3 linked regions of the Homo sapiens genome follow. The main gene of each other region encodes a partner of the protein of the gene in region 3 in a complex. Each region holds a gene or a part of one and is shown on either strand. Other genes may lie near its edges. A codon is read from its position in the direction of its gene.

Evidence for each region. The genes of interacting proteins can lie anywhere in the genome.
Region 1: the proteins of MED1 (region 3) and PPARG are in contact, whole or in part, in a crystal structure (PDB 6ONJ), measured with the Homo sapiens proteins. Residues at the interface, in NP_004765.2 of Homo sapiens: Asn638 (codon at 2,960), Thr639 (codon at 2,963), Asn641 (codon at 2,969), His642 (codon at 2,972), Pro643 (codon at 2,975), Met644 (codon at 2,978), Leu645 (codon at 2,981), Met646 (codon at 2,984), Leu648 (codon at 2,990), Leu649 (codon at 2,993), Lys650 (codon at 2,996), Asp651 (codon at 2,999); in NP_056953.2 of Homo sapiens: Val321, Gln322, Thr325, Glu326, Lys329, Phe334, Leu339, Asn340, Asp341, Gln342, Val343, Thr344, Leu346, Lys347, Gly427, Leu429, His494, Pro495, Leu496, Glu499, Ile500, Lys502.
Region 2: the proteins of MED1 (region 3) and MED24 are in contact, whole or in part, in a cryo-EM structure (PDB 8T9D), measured with the Homo sapiens proteins. Residues at the interface, in NP_004765.2 of Homo sapiens: Phe375, Asn377, Gly436, Leu437, Gln439, Glu441, Ser453, Asn459, Asp460, Ser461, Leu462, Val463, Cys464, Tyr480, Lys481, Gly482, Asp485; in NP_055630.2 of Homo sapiens: Lys7, Ile10, Trp14, Lys15, Arg17, Leu47, Ala50, Met51, Ile52, Gly53, Pro54.

Annotation. Positions count from the first base shown.
Region 1 is NC_000003.12:12,411,056-12,418,086, forward strand, and holds part of PPARG (peroxisome proliferator-activated receptor gamma), read left to right. Parts: intron 1-5,648; coding exon 5,649-6,099; intron 6,100-7,031. UniProt on the Homo sapiens protein: Nuclear receptor that binds peroxisome proliferators such as hypolipidemic drugs and fatty acids.
Region 2 is NC_000017.11:40,018,587-40,023,422, reverse strand, and holds the end of MED24 (mediator of RNA polymerase II transcription subunit 24), read left to right. Parts: intron 1-27; coding exon 28-292; intron 293-596; coding exon 597-778; intron 779-938; coding exon 939-1,029; intron 1,030-1,368; coding exon 1,369-1,468; intron 1,469-3,069; coding exon 3,070-3,150; intron 3,151-3,489; coding exon 3,490-3,638; intron 3,639-3,777; coding exon 3,778-3,894; 3' UTR 3,895-4,319; downstream 4,320-4,836. UniProt on the Homo sapiens protein: Component of the Mediator complex, a coactivator involved in the regulated transcription of nearly all RNA polymerase II-dependent genes.
Region 3 is NC_000017.11:39,406,238-39,413,268, reverse strand, and holds part of MED1 (mediator of RNA polymerase II transcription subunit 1), read left to right. Parts: intron 1-2,547; coding exon 2,548-5,794; 3' UTR 5,795-7,031. UniProt on the Homo sapiens protein: Component of the Mediator complex, a coactivator involved in the regulated transcription of nearly all RNA polymerase II-dependent genes.

The DNA.
Region 1 (7,031 bases), on a different chromosome or scaffold from region 3:
CATGTATCAATATTAATAAAATAAATTCTTCTATTGCCAGGACTGTCAGGAATAGCTAAAGATGTAAAAGATCTAAACCAGTGTGTTCTTTCAGAGAATAAGTTAAAAATAATATTTTATAGAGTTAAAAAGAAAAGCACTTGGATTTTTTTTTTCCAATGGCTGGACTCAGTTGGCCAATACCCTTGTTTGCCTGCTGAGTAACTCTTTGGCTGGCAATTGATTTTTTTAAGAGCTGTGGTTATGTGCTAGTTCATTAGCATGTGAATAATTCTTCATATTAAGTTTTCATTTGTTTGTCGTAAATCTCTAAACCCTGCAGGAAAGCAGAATATCTTTGACAGCTTTCAAACTTCACTTCTATCACACACAGCACTCCACCAGCACCTCTAGGAAACAGTGGTTCAAAAGGCCCTGCCCCAAGACCCCAGCATGTTAAGAGCGTTAGTTTAAAATCTCCAGTTCATCCTAGAACAATCATTTTAAAAGGAAAAAAAGAAGTGGGGAAGTCCTATAGAAAGCAATGGAAAGGGAAAAGTTCTCAACCCAGAATCGGGGCTTAGGTTCTAGTTCCTGGTTTGCTATAAATGGCACTTTGACTTTGGAATGTCTCTGGCTTCCGTTTATCCATTAGTCAGAGAATGATGGGACAGATTACTTCTGAAGACCCCTTATGTCCTATAAATCTCATAGTTCTCAACAAGAGGGAAACGGGAACAACAGGGGCAGAAACCAACGAGAGGCTGAGGAAACCAAACCAATGAGTTTTGGATTGTAGCTAACCGAGGAGAACCAGGTGTGTCAAAGGTGATGAAAGTCAGATGTGTAAAAAGCAAGAAGGAAACAAAATGAAGAACATGAGCCCTAAGAATTCAGTGTCTTTCCCTGGTAAAACTAAGAACATCAGGAAAGCCACACTCGATGAGGCACACATTTTTCCAAGCCAGTTTTCACTCTGACAGGGTTACCTCAAGTGATTGTTTGAGAGAGGGTAGAGGGGTTGACTACACTCATTCAATCTGCCAAATTAGAAAAGTCACCCAGAATACCCTGTGCTTTTTGAGTGATTTTCATGTTTATCTCCCGTAGCTTGCTATTTTGTTATTCAAAAGGAGTGTAAACTTAGGGCATTCATGTATAATACCTTTCATAACTCATGTTAAAATGCTGATGTTATTGGATTTCTCAGGAACACTACTGTTCTATTTCTCCATTCAAAAAGGTAAAAAAAAAATTAATTACTCTATTTTCATCATTAATCCCATTTCCCCCATTGTCTTTGTATTCTACATAGGAAGCATGCCATAGATCTATAATTGAATTTACTCATCTATATAAAACAGTACTTTTAATCCCATCCTGAAAATCAAAATATATTTTTGAAAATCAAAATATGTCAAAATTGAAAATCAAAATGTCAAAATATTGAAAATTGAAATATATCAAAATTAATTATATTTGATGTATCCCTCAAAAAATTGATTTCTCCTTACAGAAATCATTTTGCTTTCCTGGAAAAACACTGGGTTCAAGTGCAGCTTTCTTCATTCCGTTCTGGTCTGTCCAGTATATGAAAAGCACAAGCACACAATGACCAGTGACAGATTCACCATGAAGCTAATGAAGCTTCATGGGGCCCTTCCCTTGTGCAGAAGTCCTTCCAGTGCTTGGGGAAGGGCCGAAGCAATTTTATTCTCATAATTTGTAATATTTTCCTTAGAGAGACTCCACTACTGTGTATATTTTATGCCCCACAAAACCTGAATTCACCCCATCATGTCCCATTTGTAATTAAGCTTTCTTTCCTGTTAAGGAGGGACGCTTACCCAGCCCTTTGATGTACGGTCTGAAGATAAATACACTGTTAGCCCCCAACTAGAAGTGTAAAATCATTAAGACAAAATTTGAGAATGATACGGCTCCTATAATGGCAATCTTTGGATGATACTGTCCAAGCTGATGGAAAGTGTAAGGACTCCACTTTGCTTTGTAAAAAATACAAAAAAACAGCCATGGAAGTGCAGTACATTTTGTATGGAACATTGTACCACATTGTACCAAATGTCATGTTAAATTAATGATTCAAGATAAAATGCAGACCAAATTTGACCAGGGTTTTAAGAGGTTCTCTCTCCATAAAGCAGGCTGGCCACGATCTTCTCACTAGGTTTGAGGGTAAGGAGGTCCCCTGTGAAATATGAAAGTGAACTCTCTGCTATCTAAGAATTGGTGAATTGGTTGCAAAGAAAGGCAGACCAGGCCCACCCAGGGATCACTCTTGCAGTTTGACAGATCTACCTGGAGGCTGAAAGAATCTATGCAGCCTTCGGAAATGCAGTGAAAACAGTATAATCAGATATGACTAGGGAAAAAATAAAACAACTGGTGTTCATTTGCATGTCAACACCCAGAATTCTCTGCTAGTTCACCTCTTCTTCAGAATGCAGAAAGGATTGAAAAAGCTGGAATGGGGCCGGGCATGGTGGCTCATGCCTGTAATCCCATCACTTTGTGAGGCAGAGGTGGGTGGATCACCTGAGGCCAGGAGTTCAAGACCAGCCTGGCCAACATGGTGAAACCCCGTCTATACTAAAAAATAAAAAAATTTAAAAAAAATTGCCGGGCGTGGTGGTGGGTGCCTGTAATCCCAGCTACTCTGGAGGCTGAGGAGAATCACTTGAACCCAGGAGGTGGAGGTTGCAGTGAGCCTAGATTGCGCCATTGCACTCCAGCCTGGGCAACAGGAGCAAAACTCCATCTCAAAAAAAAAAAAAAAAAAAAATGAAATGGTTTGGCATGATGGTGGGGTGCTGATTCCTCTCTCTGTCCTTGAGTATTTACTGCCAGGAAATCCTGACCAACATCAATTGCCAAGGGGTTAAAGTCACATTGTTGTTAAATTGGGAGAGAAAATTAGCAGGATTTTGTGCCCTATGTTCAACTATTACAGAGTTTCAAAAACAGGAACCTGGAGCTTTATATGAGGGGACAGGGGAAGTAAAGGGGAAGAGTGACAAGGGTGATTTATCAGGGCATAGTTCCAGATAAATCACTTACATGGAGGTGAAAGAATTTCATGCATATGTTCTGTGCCAAGAAGCCAAATGGTTGAGCAGAAGCTCTGAAAGTTGAAGTGGGCAGTTCTGGGTACAGTCTTTCCACATGTGAAAAGGTGATGATTTTATATTCATGTTATTTGTACTCCTGCATGTGCAGTTGGTCTTTTCAGGTGTCCAGATCATCATTTTCTCATGACATGAAAGAAAGCCAATAAAGGCTAGTTGTGGTGGCTCACACCTGTAATCCTAGCACGCACTTAGGGAGGCCAAAGCAGGACGATCACTTGAGCCCAGGAGTTCAAGACCAGCCCAGGCAACATACATAGCAAGACCTCATCTCAAAAAATGAAATAATTTTTTTTTAGAAAAAGAAAGTAAATATTTCATTAATATAAATTATAATACACTGTAAAATGCCTGGAGGACAAGAAACACGTTTTCTCTAGGTTCTGTGAAAGCATCATTATCCATTCACATTTTTCTCATAATTAGAACCTGACGTTCTGGAAAAATACAGTAAATTTTCATCGATGTTACTTGCTCTGCCCCCCTTGTATTCCTCCCATTAATAATATTAATCCTGAAAAGAAAAAAAGAAAAAGGAAAGAAACCACCCAAGCAAAATGTTTAAGAAATACGGTAAGGACAGTTTGGTCCCAATTTCCTTAAAAATTAGAGCCACCAAGTAAACCTGTTTGGGGGTCCTCACATCTGTCCTCTTTTGGAGTTTGCTAAGTAGTACAGTTGAAGTGAATTTTTTGGTAACAAAAGTAAAAACTTCCAGAATAACTCCAGTAAAGGGTGTTGATGTGACGTACAAGTTTGGAAATATATTTAATATCTGAGACTCCTCAATGTTGGTGTTATTTCCTCCAGTTTAGAACAAACTTAATCTTTTGATGAAAATCATAGAGTTCCATAGATATGAATAGAATCTCCAACCAGTGCATCTTGAAGCCGGCTGCCACGGCCACTCATGCACCTTCTCTCCTTTCAGGAGAGAATTGTCAGCATCTCTGCTCAAAACAATCTTTACTTTTAGTCCATCAGAGACTTCATGTTTGTCGTGCATGCACACTCACACCTCTCCACACATATGCCCACTCCCCACACACATCCTGCTTCTGAGAAATGCAACTAGAATTTCCTCCGGAGAAGAGATGGAAACCCCTGATTGAGAAATTTAAGGCCTAGGAAAGGTAAATGACTTTTCTTAAGTCACATGGCTCACCACAGAACCAAAGCTGGAACACACATACCCTCAGCTCTTCTTCCAGTGCTTTCAGGTATACAAGTATTTGAACAGGATTCAAGGTTTAACTCCTTATGTGTCATTCAGTGTATCCAGTGTAAGTAAAATGTTACCCCTTAGTCAGAACAGCCTTGAGAATTTCTCAATGACTACAAACCTTGCTTAGTTCTATACAAGGGAAGTAAAAGAGAGAGAATGTCATGACCAAATGACTTAACTTTTGAAGGCAGCCTATTGCAAACTTGAATAATTGGGGCATGTATTTTATTGATTGTTTGACCTATAAGGACAGATATTTTAAAATATAAATTCAAAATTGCTTTTTTGCAGCATTCACCTGTAGGCCTTCTATATCTGCTCTTTGTGAAATAGATGGCTTCCAGAGCATTAAAAAAAGAAATAGACATTTTCTTGGTTCAAGAGCTGTAATCTGCTTTCCGAGTGATTTTTCATAGTTAAGCATATTTTATGTGCACATAGTTTCATTTGAGATCTGAGAGGATTTCATCTAAAACGGAAAAGTTATTACCTGTGAAGGAGAACAAAGGAAAAGGAAAAAGAAATTTTAAGAAAAAAAAATTTTTTTAAACCTGTAGTTACTTTATGTTCAAGTGGGTATTTTCAACGCTGAGTTGCTGAAATGGTTTTTTATTGAAAGAAGGTTAAAAGTGTATTTCATTGAAAGCCAAGATAAACAGTAGATTTTGTATCATTTTAAAAATCAACAATCGGCCGGGTGTGGTGGCTCATGCCTGTAATCCCAGCCCTTTGGGAGGCCAAGGCAGGCAGATCACTTGAGGCCAGGAGTTCAAGACCAGCCTGGCCAACATGGTGAAACCCCATCTCTACTAAAAATACAAAAATCAGCTGGGTGTGGCAGTGCATGCCAGTAATCCCAGCTACCCAGGAGGCTGAGGCACAAGAATTGCTTGAACCTGGGAGGTGGAGGTTGCAGTGAGCCCTGATTGTGCCACTGTAATTCAGTCTGGGCGCAGAGTGAGACTCTGTCTCAAAAACAAACAAACAAATAATATAAAAATCAACAATGAAGACTCCCCAAACAAAAGAAATCAGGATTCTTAGCCAGTCATAGGTAAAGTGTTACAGTGTAAATTGAAGGGAAAGAAGACCAAAATTGGTGAAATATGTTTGGTCCCAGAAGATAATTAAGATGAATAAAAGAACTTGAGAGTATTTTCTCATTATTAAGCATCTTCAGCTTTAAAGATTTTAGTTAGCAAAGCAAGTTTACATAAACAGTTTTCTGAACCTGGGATGGCATTCACTGTGAGTTAGAAATCTCCAAGTCATCCACGTTTTCCCTGTTTTATTTGCAGCCATTCGTTATCTATGACATGAATTCCTTAATGATGGGAGAAGATAAAATCAAGTTCAAACACATCACCCCCCTGCAGGAGCAGAGCAAAGAGGTGGCCATCCGCATCTTTCAGGGCTGCCAGTTTCGCTCCGTGGAGGCTGTGCAGGAGATCACAGAGTATGCCAAAAGCATTCCTGGTTTTGTAAATCTTGACTTGAACGACCAAGTAACTCTCCTCAAATATGGAGTCCACGAGATCATTTACACAATGCTGGCCTCCTTGATGAATAAAGATGGGGTTCTCATATCCGAGGGCCAAGGCTTCATGACAAGGGAGTTTCTAAAGAGCCTGCGAAAGCCTTTTGGTGACTTTATGGAGCCCAAGTTTGAGTTTGCTGTGAAGTTCAATGCACTGGAATTAGATGACAGCGACTTGGCAATATTTATTGCTGTCATTATTCTCAGTGGAGGTAAGATTTGTCTTTTGATCTTCTATGAAAGAGGGTGGGATGATGGTGGGGTGGCCAAAAGAATTTTGGATTTCCTTAGTGTTAGTCTGCATTGTCACTTTAAGTGCCAGTGGCATGATGCCATGAATCATCACTACACGTGCAAAACACTGTACCAAGAAAGAGTGTCATAGGTTTGCGGTGTGAAGGTTATAAGTAACCCAGGATCTTCTCTTTCATCCCTCAACAATATATTTTTTCCAGTCAAATGCCCTCTTCTCCTTTTTCTTTTTCTTTTCTTTTCTTTGTCTCTTTCTTTTCCTTCCAGAAAGGAAGATTAGAGGCCAGTCTAATCTTTGGTTCCTGTAAGTAATGGCATGTATAACTTTGCTTAAGACAATGCTCACTTGATGTAGAGAAGGGACCACTAAGTATTTCTGGTCAAATCATGCTCCTGCCCCACCATCAGTAAGATACTACTTTGAATTGCTTTTGTGATATCAGGAATTAAGGAATACCTACTGACCTCCACCCACTCTCTTGTGTGGATTCCTCTGATGGCTTCCCTTAAAGTACCTTTGTGAGGTAGTTGGTTGTGATTAAGAATGCAATGTGAACCGAACACACAACATAGAAATAAATTTAGTTATTTAGCAATTTGTTGTATTTTTGGCCCTGCAAGTAGTACATGATCTGACTAACCAATTCCAAAAGCCAGATTTTCTTCTGAGTGTGACTTTTTTCTTTTTTTTTTCTTTTTTTTTTTTCCTTTTTTTTTTTTTTTTTTTTTTTGTGAGACAGGGCCTCACTCTGTCACCCAGACTGAAGTGCAGTTGCACAGTCATAGCTCACTGCAGCTTCTAACTGCAGTTAGTAAGCTATGATCATGCTACTTCATAAAAGTAATACGTGGCCATTTTACAGTTGGGCTCAAGTGATTCTCCCACCTCAGC
Region 2 (4,836 bases), 610 kb from region 3:
CCTCAGGTTCTCTCGGCCCTCCCCCAGGGTGGTGATCATGAACTCGATCCTGGAGCGCATGTGTGCCGACGTGCTGCAGCAGACAGCCACGCAGATCAAGTTTCCCTCCACCGGGGTGGACACAATGCCCTACTGGAACCTGCTGCCCCCCAAGCGGCCCATCAAAGAGGTGCTGACGGACATTTTTGCCAAGGTGCTGGAGAAGGGCTGGGTGGACAGCCGCTCCATCCACATCTTTGACACCCTGCTGCACATGGGCGGCGTCTACTGGTTCTGCAACAACCTGATTAAGGTACTTGGGCTGGAGTGGCTGTGGGCCGACATGGGTCCTGTCCCCTGGCTCCCCACACCTGGCCTGGTCTGCCAGGCTTCCCTGAGAGGCTGCCGTGAGCCAGGTGGCCTCCCCGGAATGCCTCGCCTCAGAGTTGCCTCCTTGGGGAGCTCTGGCCAGAGACTGGGATTCAGCCTGAGGGGCGGAGCAACATCTGGGGCCCCCTCTGCGGGCCTTACTGGACAGCCATGCTGGGGTGGCAGGGTGTAGGAGCCCCAGATCCCGGGCCCCTGGCTCCTGAACTGCCCCCTTTCCTGCGCACTAGGAGCTGCTGAAGGAGACGCGGAAGGAGCACACGCTGCGGGCAGTGGAGCTGCTCTACTCCATCTTCTGCCTGGACATGCAGCAAGTGACCCTGGTCCTGCTGGGCCACATCCTACCTGGCCTGCTCACTGACTCCTCCAAGTGGCACAGCCTCATGGACCCCCCGGGCACTGCTCTTGCCAAGTAAGATTCTCTTCAGAGCTTGCCCTGCTCCGGCCACCCAGGGTCAAGCACCCCTCGCCTGGTGCCACCCTGGGAGACTGGGCTTTGGGGAGCCCAGTCAGACACAGAAAGCTCCTGGGGCACCTCTCACTGTCCCCCTTTTTCTGGAACCCTTTGCCAGGCTGGCCGTGTGGTGTGCCCTCAGTTCCTACTCCTCCCACAAGGGACAGGCGTCCACCCGCCAGAAGAAGAGACACCGCGAAGACATTGAGGTAGGCCCCCCAGCTGCCCTCGCCGGCTTCACTTGTTCACCGGTTTGTTACAGCATTTCCTAAGGATTCCCCAGGCAAAGGGAAGCAGTTGTGGCCCCTGCCCTTGGGGCAGCTGTGCCTGGGCATGATTGGTCAGGAATCTGCATGGGTGATTTGTGTGGCCCCAGCTTGCCCATGGGCACAAGGGGCCTGTCAGATTGTGGGAGGGGTTGAGCAGAGAGGGGCTGAGGCCCTGCTAGCCATGCTGACCTCGCTCAAATCGGAGCTCAAGCTCTTTTCCCTGACAGCTGGAAACTGGGGGGTTTAGGGGTGTATAACAGTGACTTTCACTCCCTCTAGGATTATATCAGCCTCTTCCCCCTGGACGATGTGCAGCCTTCGAAGTTGATGCGACTGCTGAGCTCTAATGAGGACGATGCCAACATCCTTTCGAGCCCCAGTGAGTGTGTGGGCTGGCCGCGCGCCGCTCCTTTTCCTGGGAATTCACTCCCCGATGCTGCCACTCTGCCGCTGCCCCAGCTGCAGGCATCTTTGCAGCTGGTCAGAGAGGGTGTGGCAGGGACCTGCTGTTCTAGCCCCCAAGGGGGTGCTCTGTGTCCTGCCCCTGGAGAAGAGGTTGCTGTTCTCACTCCCTGAGGGTTGAAGCTCCTCTGCCCAGGTCCAGCCCAGCCCACAGTTGTTCCCCCACAGCCCTCCTGCCCCTCCCTTACCCCAGGGTTGAGGGGATGACAAGCTACCCAAGTGAGTGAGTTCACTGCCTCAGGCACAGCCTGTGCCATTGACTCACCAGCTCTGACCTTCCTTCCTTCCTTCCCCCAAAACATGCCCGGAGAGGCCCGGGCTGGGGCATGGGGCTACTCCCCACCTTCCTGCCTAAAGAGCACACCCCCCACCAACCACTTCCCTGGAGGTCATCCTTTTCACTGTCCCCTCCTCCCTGCCAGGCTTACTGCCAAGGGTTCCTTCTGTGGCATTTTTCCTGTTTCCAGAGATTTCTCCTGAGCCTGAACTTTTCTCTGAAGCCTTTTAGGAACTAGGGGACCAACTATACACTTGATCAGAAGAAAGATGCTAGGTTTGCCAGCTACAAGTGCTGTGACCTTTAGCTAGCGACTGAGCCAGCCCCCGTCTGGGTCTCCTCATCTGTAAATGGGGTGTTGTGAGGAGTAAGCAGCTTAGGAAGTACCAAGATCGGCCCCTGGCCCTGTGTGCTCACCACATGTTAGTTTTTCTCTCTCATTCCATTGGGATCTCTGTATCTGAGGTCCCTCTGTGCCCTTTTTTTGTTTTGTTTTTTGTTTGTTTGTTTGTTTGTTTGTTTGAGTTGGAGTCTCCCTCTGTTGCCCAGGCTGGAGTGCAGTCGCACGATCTCAGCTTACTGCAACCTCCGCCTCCTGGGTTTAAGCAATTTTCCTGTCTCAGCCTCCTGAGTCTCTGGGACTACAGGCGCCTGCCACAACGCCTGGCTAATTTTTGTATTTTTAGTAGAGACGGGGTTTCACCATATTGGTCAGGCTGGTCTCGAACTCCTGAACTCAGATGATCCACCCGCCTTGGCCTCCCAAAGTGCTGGGATTACAGGCGTGAGCCACCACGCCCAGCCTGTTTTTCTGAGACACGGTTTTGCTCTGTTGCTCAGGCTGGAGTGCAGTGGCACCATCTCGGCTCACTGCAGCCTTGTTCTCCTAGGCTCAAGCAGTCTGCCTCAGCCTCCCGAGGAGCTGGGACTACAGGCGTTGGCACCACACCCAGCTAATTTTTGTATTTTTTGTAGAGATGAGGTCTCGCTAGTTGCCAAGGCTGGTCTCAAACTCCTGGACTCAAGCGATCCTCCTGCCTCGGCCTCCCAAAATGCTGGGATTACAGGTGTGAGCCACTGTACCTGGCCTCCCTTTGTGCTCTTGATCTCAGGGTCTTCTCTGGGCTCTCCATGTACCAGTTACCTCCGATGGGTGAAGGTCGGGTTGGGGCATCCCCGGGGAGCACCACTTTTGCACTCGGCAGGCTGTTTCCCAGCGCTCCATCTGCTCCGTCCCACAGCAGACCGATCCATGAGCAGCTCCCTCTCAGCCTCTCAGCTCCACACGGTCAACATGCGGGACCCTCTGAACCGAGTCCTGGGTGAGTTCCCCACCCCTGCTGCCGAACCTGGGGCTAAGCTGGACGAGTCTCTCTTCTCATGGAGGCTGGGAGACCTTGTCAGCTGGAAGGGGCCTTGCGGTGCCCCTCCCTTCCCTCTCCATGCCCCTCATTGTTGGCTGTCCTGGCCCCCAGGCTCCTGTCTAGTTCCCCCTCCTCCCCTCCCCAATTGCCTTTTATATTTTCTCTCTCTGACACCCCATTTTGGGGACATGCTCAGCATGTGTTTCTTTTCCCTTTTCAGTCCCACCTTCTCCCAGAGTGTGACCTCACCCACTCTCATGGAACTCCCTCCTGTCACTCTCCCCCCACTCTCTACAGCCAACCTGTTCCTGCTCATCTCCTCCATCCTGGGGTCTCGCACCGCTGGCCCCCACACCCAGTTCGTGCAGTGGTTCATGGAGGAGTGTGTGGACTGCCTGGAGCAGGGTGGCCGTGGCAGCGTCCTGCAGTTCATGCCCTTCACCACCGTGAGTACCACCTTCCCGGCTCTCCTGCTGGTGCTGGGGCCTCGGGGCAGCCCTTAGAGCAGGGAGGGGCCTCCTTCCCCCTGGGACAGCACACCCACCACCAGCCGTCCCGCAAGCAGCATCTGTCTGTCCGTGGCAGGTGTCGGAACTGGTGAAGGTGTCAGCCATGTCCAGCCCCAAGGTGGTTCTGGCCATCACGGACCTCAGCCTGCCCCTGGGCCGCCAGGTGGCTGCTAAAGCCATTGCTGCACTCTGAGGGGCTTGGCATGGCCGCAGTGGGGGCTGGGGACTGGCGCAGCCCCAGGCGCCTCCAAGGGAAGCAGTGAGGAAAGATGAGGCATCGTGCCTCACATCCGCTCCACATGGTGCAAGAGCCTCTAGCGGCTTCCAGTTCCCCGCTCCTGACTCCTGACCTCCAGGATGTCTCCCGGTTTCTTCTTTCAAAATTTCCTCTCCATCTGCTGGCACCTGAGGAGAGTGAGCAGCCTGGACCACAAGCCCAGTGGTCACCCCTGTGTGCGCCCGCCCCAGCCCAGGAGTAGTCTTACCTCTGAGGAACTTTCTAGATGCAAAGTGTGTATGTGTGTGTGTGTGTGTGTGTGTGTGTGTTTGTGTGTATTTTGTAATATGTGAGGGAAATCTACCTTCGTTCATGTATAAATAAAGCTCCTCGTGGCTCCCTTTGTGACTGTGTGTGCTGTTGGTATTGGTGCCACCCGGGGCAGGGCATAGTGTCCTCTCCCTGGACTCCTGTGCTGTGGCCAGGGAACGGCTCACTCCTGTGGTGAGGAGGAGGAGGAAGAGGAGCAGAGGCGGCAGGGCTCAGGGTCCTATGTGGGCTTGCTCAGCTGGGGAAGGGCCAGGGGAAAGCAGCTTCCCTTCCTTGGAGCCAAGTTGGCTGGCCTGCTGCCCCCTCCCCCAAAGCCAGCTGTACCCTGAAAGGGGAGAGGCTTTGGCTCAGGGCCCCACAGTGCTGGGGCAGGGTGGCCTGCTCTGCTGTCTCCCGAACCTGGTCCAACACCACCCACACTCTGACTAGCCTGGGATTTGATCTGTTGCCTCCAAAAAAGGACTGGGGGATGGGAGGCGGGGGGATGAGGGGCCGGACCTTTCTTTAACCCTTCCTTGCCTGCCTCACACATCTCTGAGCCCCTAGATGGATGACTCCGAGCTGGCAGTGGGAACTTCTGACCCTGCT
Region 3 (7,031 bases):
CTAACTAAATAAATAAAAATATAAAAATTAGCCAGGTGTGGTGGCAGGTGCCTATAATCCCAGCTACTCAGGAGGCTGAGGCGGGAGAATTGCTTGAACCTGGGAGGCGGAGGCTGCAGTGAGCCGAGATTGTGCCACTCCACTCCAGCCTGGTAGACAGAGCAAGATGCCATCTCAAAACAAACAAAAAGCCAACTTAATTGTTACGTGATAGTTAAGCCAGTATGCATCCCAGAACCATTAATATGTAATTTTTTGAGATTTTTCTACAGCTGGGTCTGGCAGCCTATTTTTGTAAATAAATTTTATTGGAACACTGCTGTTCATTTACATGTCTGTGGCAGATTTCTAGTTAATATTGCAGAGTAGGTGAACAGGAAACAAGACCTACAAAGCCTAACGGATTACTATATGGCCTTATAAGAAAAATTTGCGGCCGGGTGCGGGGGTCACCCCTGTAATCCTAGCACTTTGGGAGGCTGAGGCGGGTAAATCACGAGGTCAGGAGTTCAAGACCAGCCTGGCCAAGATGGTGAAACCCCATCTCTACTAAAAATACAAAAATTAGCTGGGCGTGGTGGCGGGCTTCTGTAATCCCAGCTACTTGGGAGGCTGAGGCAGAGAATTGCTTGAACCTGGGAGGCGGAAGTTGCGGTAAGCCAAGATCATGCCACTGCACTCCAGCCTGGATAACAGAGCGAGACTCTGTCTCAAAGAAAAAAAAAAAAAAAAAAAGAAAAATTTGCTGGCTGGGTGTGGTGGCTCACGCCTATAATCCCAGCACTTTGGGAGGTGGGTGGATCGCCTGAGGTCAGGAGTTCGAGACCAGCCTGACTGACATGGAGAAACCCTGTCTCTACTAAAAATACAGAATTAGCTGGGCGTGATGGCGCATGGCTGTAATCCCAGCTACTCGAGAGGCTGAGGCAGGAGAATCACTTGAACCTGGGAGGTGGAGGTTGCAGTGAGCCAAGATCGCGCCATTGCACTCCAGCCTGGGCAACAAGAGCAAAACTCCGTCTCAAAAAAAAAAAAAAAAAGAAAAAAAAATTTGCTGACATATGTTCTAGAGCAAAACGTTTGCAAACTGAGGTTTATGAATATAAATTTATCTGGAAAATAAAAAGTGCTTTGCTTTAAAATAAACAAGATTTATAACAGAAATAGCACTTTTTATAATAGTGTAGGTTTGGGATGATCTAAGTCATTAAGGTTTAGTACTTAATGGGTCAAGAGATTTTTCTTTTCTTTTTTTTTTTTTTGAGATGGAGTCTTGTACTGTCACCTGGGCTGGAGTGCCATGGCACAATCTCAGCTCACTGCAACCTCTGCTTCCCGGGTTCAAGCAATTCTGCCTCAGCCTCCCAAGTAGTTGGGATTACAGGCACCTGCCACCATGCCCAGCTAATTTTTTGTATTTTTTCTTTTTTTTAGTAGAGATGGGGTTTCACTATGTTGGCCAGGCTGGTCTCAAAACTCCTGACCCTGTGATCCACCCGCCTCGGCCTCCCAAAGTGCTGGGATTACAGGCGTGAGCCACTCTGACCGGCGGAGATTTTTCTAATGGTTCCTTAATTAAAATAAATTATGTATCCCTGTAATTACCATATGAAGCCCCCCAGAGGACGACATTTTCTTTTTTCCTTTGAAATGAAGTCTTGCACTGTCACCAAGGCTGGCGTGCAATGGGACGATCTTGGCTCGCTGCGATCTCTGCCTCCTGGGTTCAAGTGATTCTCCTGTCTACCCTTCCTGAGTAGCTGGGATTACAGCTGTGCACCGCCACGGCTGGCTAATTTTTTGTATTTTTAGTAGAGACAGGGTTTCACCCCGCTGGCCAGGCTGGTCTCAAACTCCTGACCCGAAGTGATCCACCCTCCTCGGCCTTCCAAAGTGCTGGGATTGCAGGAGTGAGCCACCGCGCCCGACCTAAGGAGGCATTTTTTTTTTTGAGACGGAGTCTCACTCTGTTGCCAAGCTGGAGTGCAGTGGTGTGATCTCAGTGCAATGCAACCTCCGCCTCCCTTGTTCAAGCAATTCTCCTGCCTCAACCTCCCGAGTAGCTGGGATTACAGGCACGCGCCACCACGCCCAGCTAATTTTTGTATTTTTAGTAGAGACGGGGTTTCACCATGTTGGCCAGGATGGTGTCGATCTCCTGACCTCATGTTCCAGCCGCCTTGGCCTCCCAAAGTGCTGGGATTACAGGCGTGAGCCACTGTGCCCGGCCCCTAAGGAGGCATTTTCTTACTGAGTTCCATTATTACCAATTTTCTTTTAGTTAAGTTTGAAATTCAATTATTTGGACTCTTGTTTATAGTTTGCTTTTGTTGTGTGATTCATAAGAGGTTGACAATTTTATGTTGGGTTAGATTTTTAGAATGTATTTACCCAAAGCTCTGGTATTTGATAGAACTATTTTTGTCTTACAGATTATTTGCCCTACCTGAAAACTGCTTACTGCAAAACTCTGATGTTATATCTAAATCTCAGGTCTCATTCAGCAGCTATTGCAATGTTAACTTTGTTTTCTTCTTTATTTTGCAGATGTATGTCCATCCCTGTGACGATGAGGGCTATTCGGAGGAAAGCTGAAACCATTCAAGCCGACACCCCAGCACTGTCCCTCATTGCAGAGACAGTTGAAGACATGGTGAAAAAGAACCTGCCCCCGGCTAGCAGCCCAGGGTATGGCATGACCACAGGCAACAACCCAATGAGTGGTACCACTACACCAACCAACACCTTTCCGGGGGGTCCCATTACCACCTTGTTTAATATGAGCATGAGCATCAAAGATCGGCATGAGTCGGTGGGCCATGGGGAGGACTTCAGCAAGGTGTCTCAGAACCCAATTCTTACCAGTTTGTTGCAAATCACAGGGAACGGGGGGTCTACCATTGGCTCGAGTCCGACCCCTCCTCATCACACGCCGCCACCTGTCTCTTCGATGGCCGGCAACACCAAGAACCACCCGATGCTCATGAACCTTCTTAAAGATAATCCTGCCCAGGATTTCTCAACCCTTTATGGAAGCAGCCCTTTAGAAAGGCAGAACTCCTCTTCCGGCTCACCCCGCATGGAAATATGCTCGGGGAGCAACAAGACCAAGAAAAAGAAGTCATCAAGATTACCACCTGAGAAACCAAAGCACCAGACTGAAGATGACTTTCAGAGGGAGCTATTTTCAATGGATGTTGACTCACAGAACCCTATCTTTGATGTCAACATGACAGCTGACACGCTGGATACGCCACACATCACTCCAGCTCCAAGCCAGTGTAGCACTCCCCCAACAACTTACCCACAACCAGTACCTCACCCCCAACCCAGTATTCAAAGGATGGTCCGACTATCCAGTTCAGACAGCATTGGCCCAGATGTAACTGACATCCTTTCAGACATTGCAGAAGAAGCTTCTAAACTTCCCAGCACTAGTGATGATTGCCCAGCCATTGGCACCCCTCTTCGAGATTCTTCAAGCTCTGGGCATTCTCAGAGTACCCTGTTTGACTCTGATGTCTTTCAAACTAACAATAATGAAAATCCATACACTGATCCAGCTGATCTTATTGCAGATGCTGCTGGAAGCCCCAGTAGTGACTCTCCTACCAATCATTTTTTTCATGATGGAGTAGATTTCAATCCTGATTTATTGAACAGCCAGAGCCAAAGTGGTTTTGGAGAAGAATATTTTGATGAAAGCAGCCAAAGTGGGGATAATGATGATTTCAAAGGATTTGCATCTCAGGCACTAAATACTTTGGGGGTGCCAATGCTTGGAGGTGATAATGGGGAGACCAAGTTTAAGGGCAATAACCAAGCCGACACAGTTGATTTCAGTATTATTTCAGTAGCCGGCAAAGCTTTAGCTCCTGCAGATCTTATGGAGCATCACAGTGGTAGTCAGGGTCCTTTACTGACCACTGGGGACTTAGGGAAAGAAAAGACTCAAAAGAGGGTAAAGGAAGGCAATGGCACCAGTAATAGTACTCTCTCGGGGCCCGGATTAGACAGCAAACCAGGGAAGCGCAGTCGGACCCCTTCTAATGATGGGAAAAGCAAAGATAAGCCTCCAAAGCGGAAGAAGGCAGACACTGAGGGAAAGTCTCCATCTCATAGTTCTTCTAACAGACCTTTTACCCCACCTACCAGTACAGGTGGATCTAAATCGCCAGGCAGTGCAGGAAGATCTCAGACTCCCCCAGGTGTTGCCACACCACCCATTCCCAAAATCACTATTCAGATTCCTAAGGGAACAGTGATGGTGGGCAAGCCTTCCTCTCACAGTCAGTATACCAGCAGTGGTTCTGTGTCTTCCTCAGGCAGCAAAAGCCACCATAGCCATTCTTCCTCCTCTTCCTCATCTGCTTCCACCTCAGGGAAGATGAAAAGCAGTAAATCAGAAGGTTCATCAAGTTCCAAGTTAAGTAGCAGTATGTATTCTAGCCAGGGGTCTTCTGGATCTAGCCAGTCCAAAAATTCATCCCAGTCTGGGGGGAAGCCAGGCTCCTCTCCCATAACCAAGCATGGACTGAGCAGTGGCTCTAGCAGCACCAAGATGAAACCTCAAGGAAAGCCATCATCACTTATGAATCCTTCTTTAAGTAAACCAAACATATCCCCTTCTCATTCAAGGCCACCTGGAGGCTCTGACAAGCTTGCCTCTCCAATGAAGCCTGTTCCTGGAACTCCTCCATCCTCTAAAGCCAAGTCCCCTATCAGTTCAGGTTCTGGTGGTTCTCATATGTCTGGAACTAGTTCAAGCTCTGGCATGAAGTCATCTTCAGGGTTAGGATCCTCAGGCTCGTTGTCCCAGAAAACTCCCCCATCATCTAATTCCTGTACGGCATCTTCCTCCTCCTTTTCCTCAAGTGGCTCTTCCATGTCATCCTCTCAGAACCAGCATGGGAGTTCTAAAGGAAAATCTCCCAGCAGAAACAAGAAGCCGTCCTTGACAGCTGTCATAGATAAACTGAAGCATGGGGTTGTCACCAGTGGCCCTGGGGGTGAAGACCCACTGGACGGCCAGATGGGGGTGAGCACAAATTCTTCCAGCCATCCTATGTCCTCCAAACATAACATGTCAGGAGGAGAGTTTCAGGGCAAGCGTGAGAAAAGTGATAAAGACAAATCAAAGGTTTCCACCTCCGGGAGTTCAGTGGATTCTTCTAAGAAGACCTCAGAGTCAAAAAATGTGGGGAGCACAGGTGTGGCAAAAATTATCATCAGTAAGCATGATGGAGGCTCCCCTAGCATTAAAGCCAAAGTGACTTTGCAGAAACCTGGGGAAAGTAGTGGAGAAGGGCTTAGGCCTCAAATGGCTTCTTCTAAAAACTATGGCTCTCCACTCATCAGTGGTTCCACTCCAAAGCATGAGCGTGGCTCTCCCAGCCATAGTAAGTCACCAGCATATACCCCCCAGAATCTGGACAGTGAAAGTGAGTCAGGCTCCTCCATAGCAGAGAAATCTTATCAGAATAGTCCCAGCTCAGACGATGGTATCCGACCACTTCCAGAATACAGCACAGAGAAACATAAGAAGCACAAAAAGGAAAAGAAGAAAGTAAAAGACAAAGATAGGGACCGAGACCGGGACAAAGACCGAGACAAGAAAAAATCTCATAGCATCAAGCCAGAGAGTTGGTCCAAATCACCCATCTCTTCAGACCAGTCCTTGTCTATGACAAGTAACACAATCTTATCTGCAGACAGACCCTCAAGGCTCAGCCCAGACTTTATGATTGGGGAGGAAGATGATGATCTTATGGATGTGGCCCTGATTGGGAATTAGGAACCTTATTTCCTAAAAGAAACAGGGCCAGAGGAAAAAAAACTATTGATAAGTTTATAGGCAAACCACCATAAGGGGTGAGTCAGACAGGTCTGATTTGGTTAAGAATCCTAAATGGCATGGCTTTGACATCAAGCTGGGTGAATTAGAAAGGCATATCCAGACCCTATTAAAGAAACCACAGGGTTTGATTCTGGTTACCAGGAAGTCTTCTTTGTTCCTGTGCCAGAAAGAAAGTTAAAATACTTGCTTAAGAAAGGGAGGGGGGTGGGAGGGGTGTAGGGAGAGGGAAGGGAGGGAAACAGTTTTGTGGGAAATATTCATATATATTTTCTTCTCCCTTTTTCCATTTTTAGGCCATGTTTTAAACTCATTTTAGTGCATGTATATGAAGGGCTGGGCAGAAAATGAAAAAGCAATACATTCCTTGATGCATTTGCATGAAGGTTGTTCAACTTTGTTTGAGGTAGTTGTCCGTTTGAGTCATGGGCAAATGAAGGACTTTGGTCATTTTGGACACTTAAGTAATGTTTGGTGTCTGTTTCTTAGGAGTGACTGGGGGAGGGAAGATTATTTTAGCTATTTATTTGTAATATTTTAACCCTTTATCTGTTTGTTTTTATACAGTGTTTCGTTCTAAATCTATGAGGTTTAGGGTTCAAAATGATGGAAGGCCGAAGAGCAAGGCTTATATGGTGGTAGGGAGCTTATAGCTTGTGCTAATACTGTAGCATCAAGCCCAAGCAAATTAGTCAGAGCCCGCCTTTAGAGTTAAATATAATAGAAAAACCAAAATGATATTTTTATTTTAGGAGGGTTTAAATAGGGTTCAGAGATCATAGGAATATTAGGAGTTACCTCTCTGTGGAGGTATTGACTTGTAATCTCATTTTCCTTTCAAAAAAAAAAAAAAAAGCTAAGGTGGCTTGTTGGGATGTAAACATGTTTTCAGATGCAGTAAGGTTTAGTGTAGGACAGCCTTCCTGACCCAGTGGCATGAAAACCATTACAGGATTAATAGTTCTCCTACTTCCACAATGTGCCAAAAGTCTGCATCCCAGCATTTTGTTTGCAGGAGAACTGATGCCATTCCTAAGAGCTGGACTCACTGTTTCTCTTCATCACAAGGAGAAGGAGTCCAAACTTTAATCACTCCACTGTATGCTCCCTGAGATAAAACAGTAAAAAATCCGCAGCCATAGTTCACTTAAAACAATTTCAAGCTCACTTTTGAAGT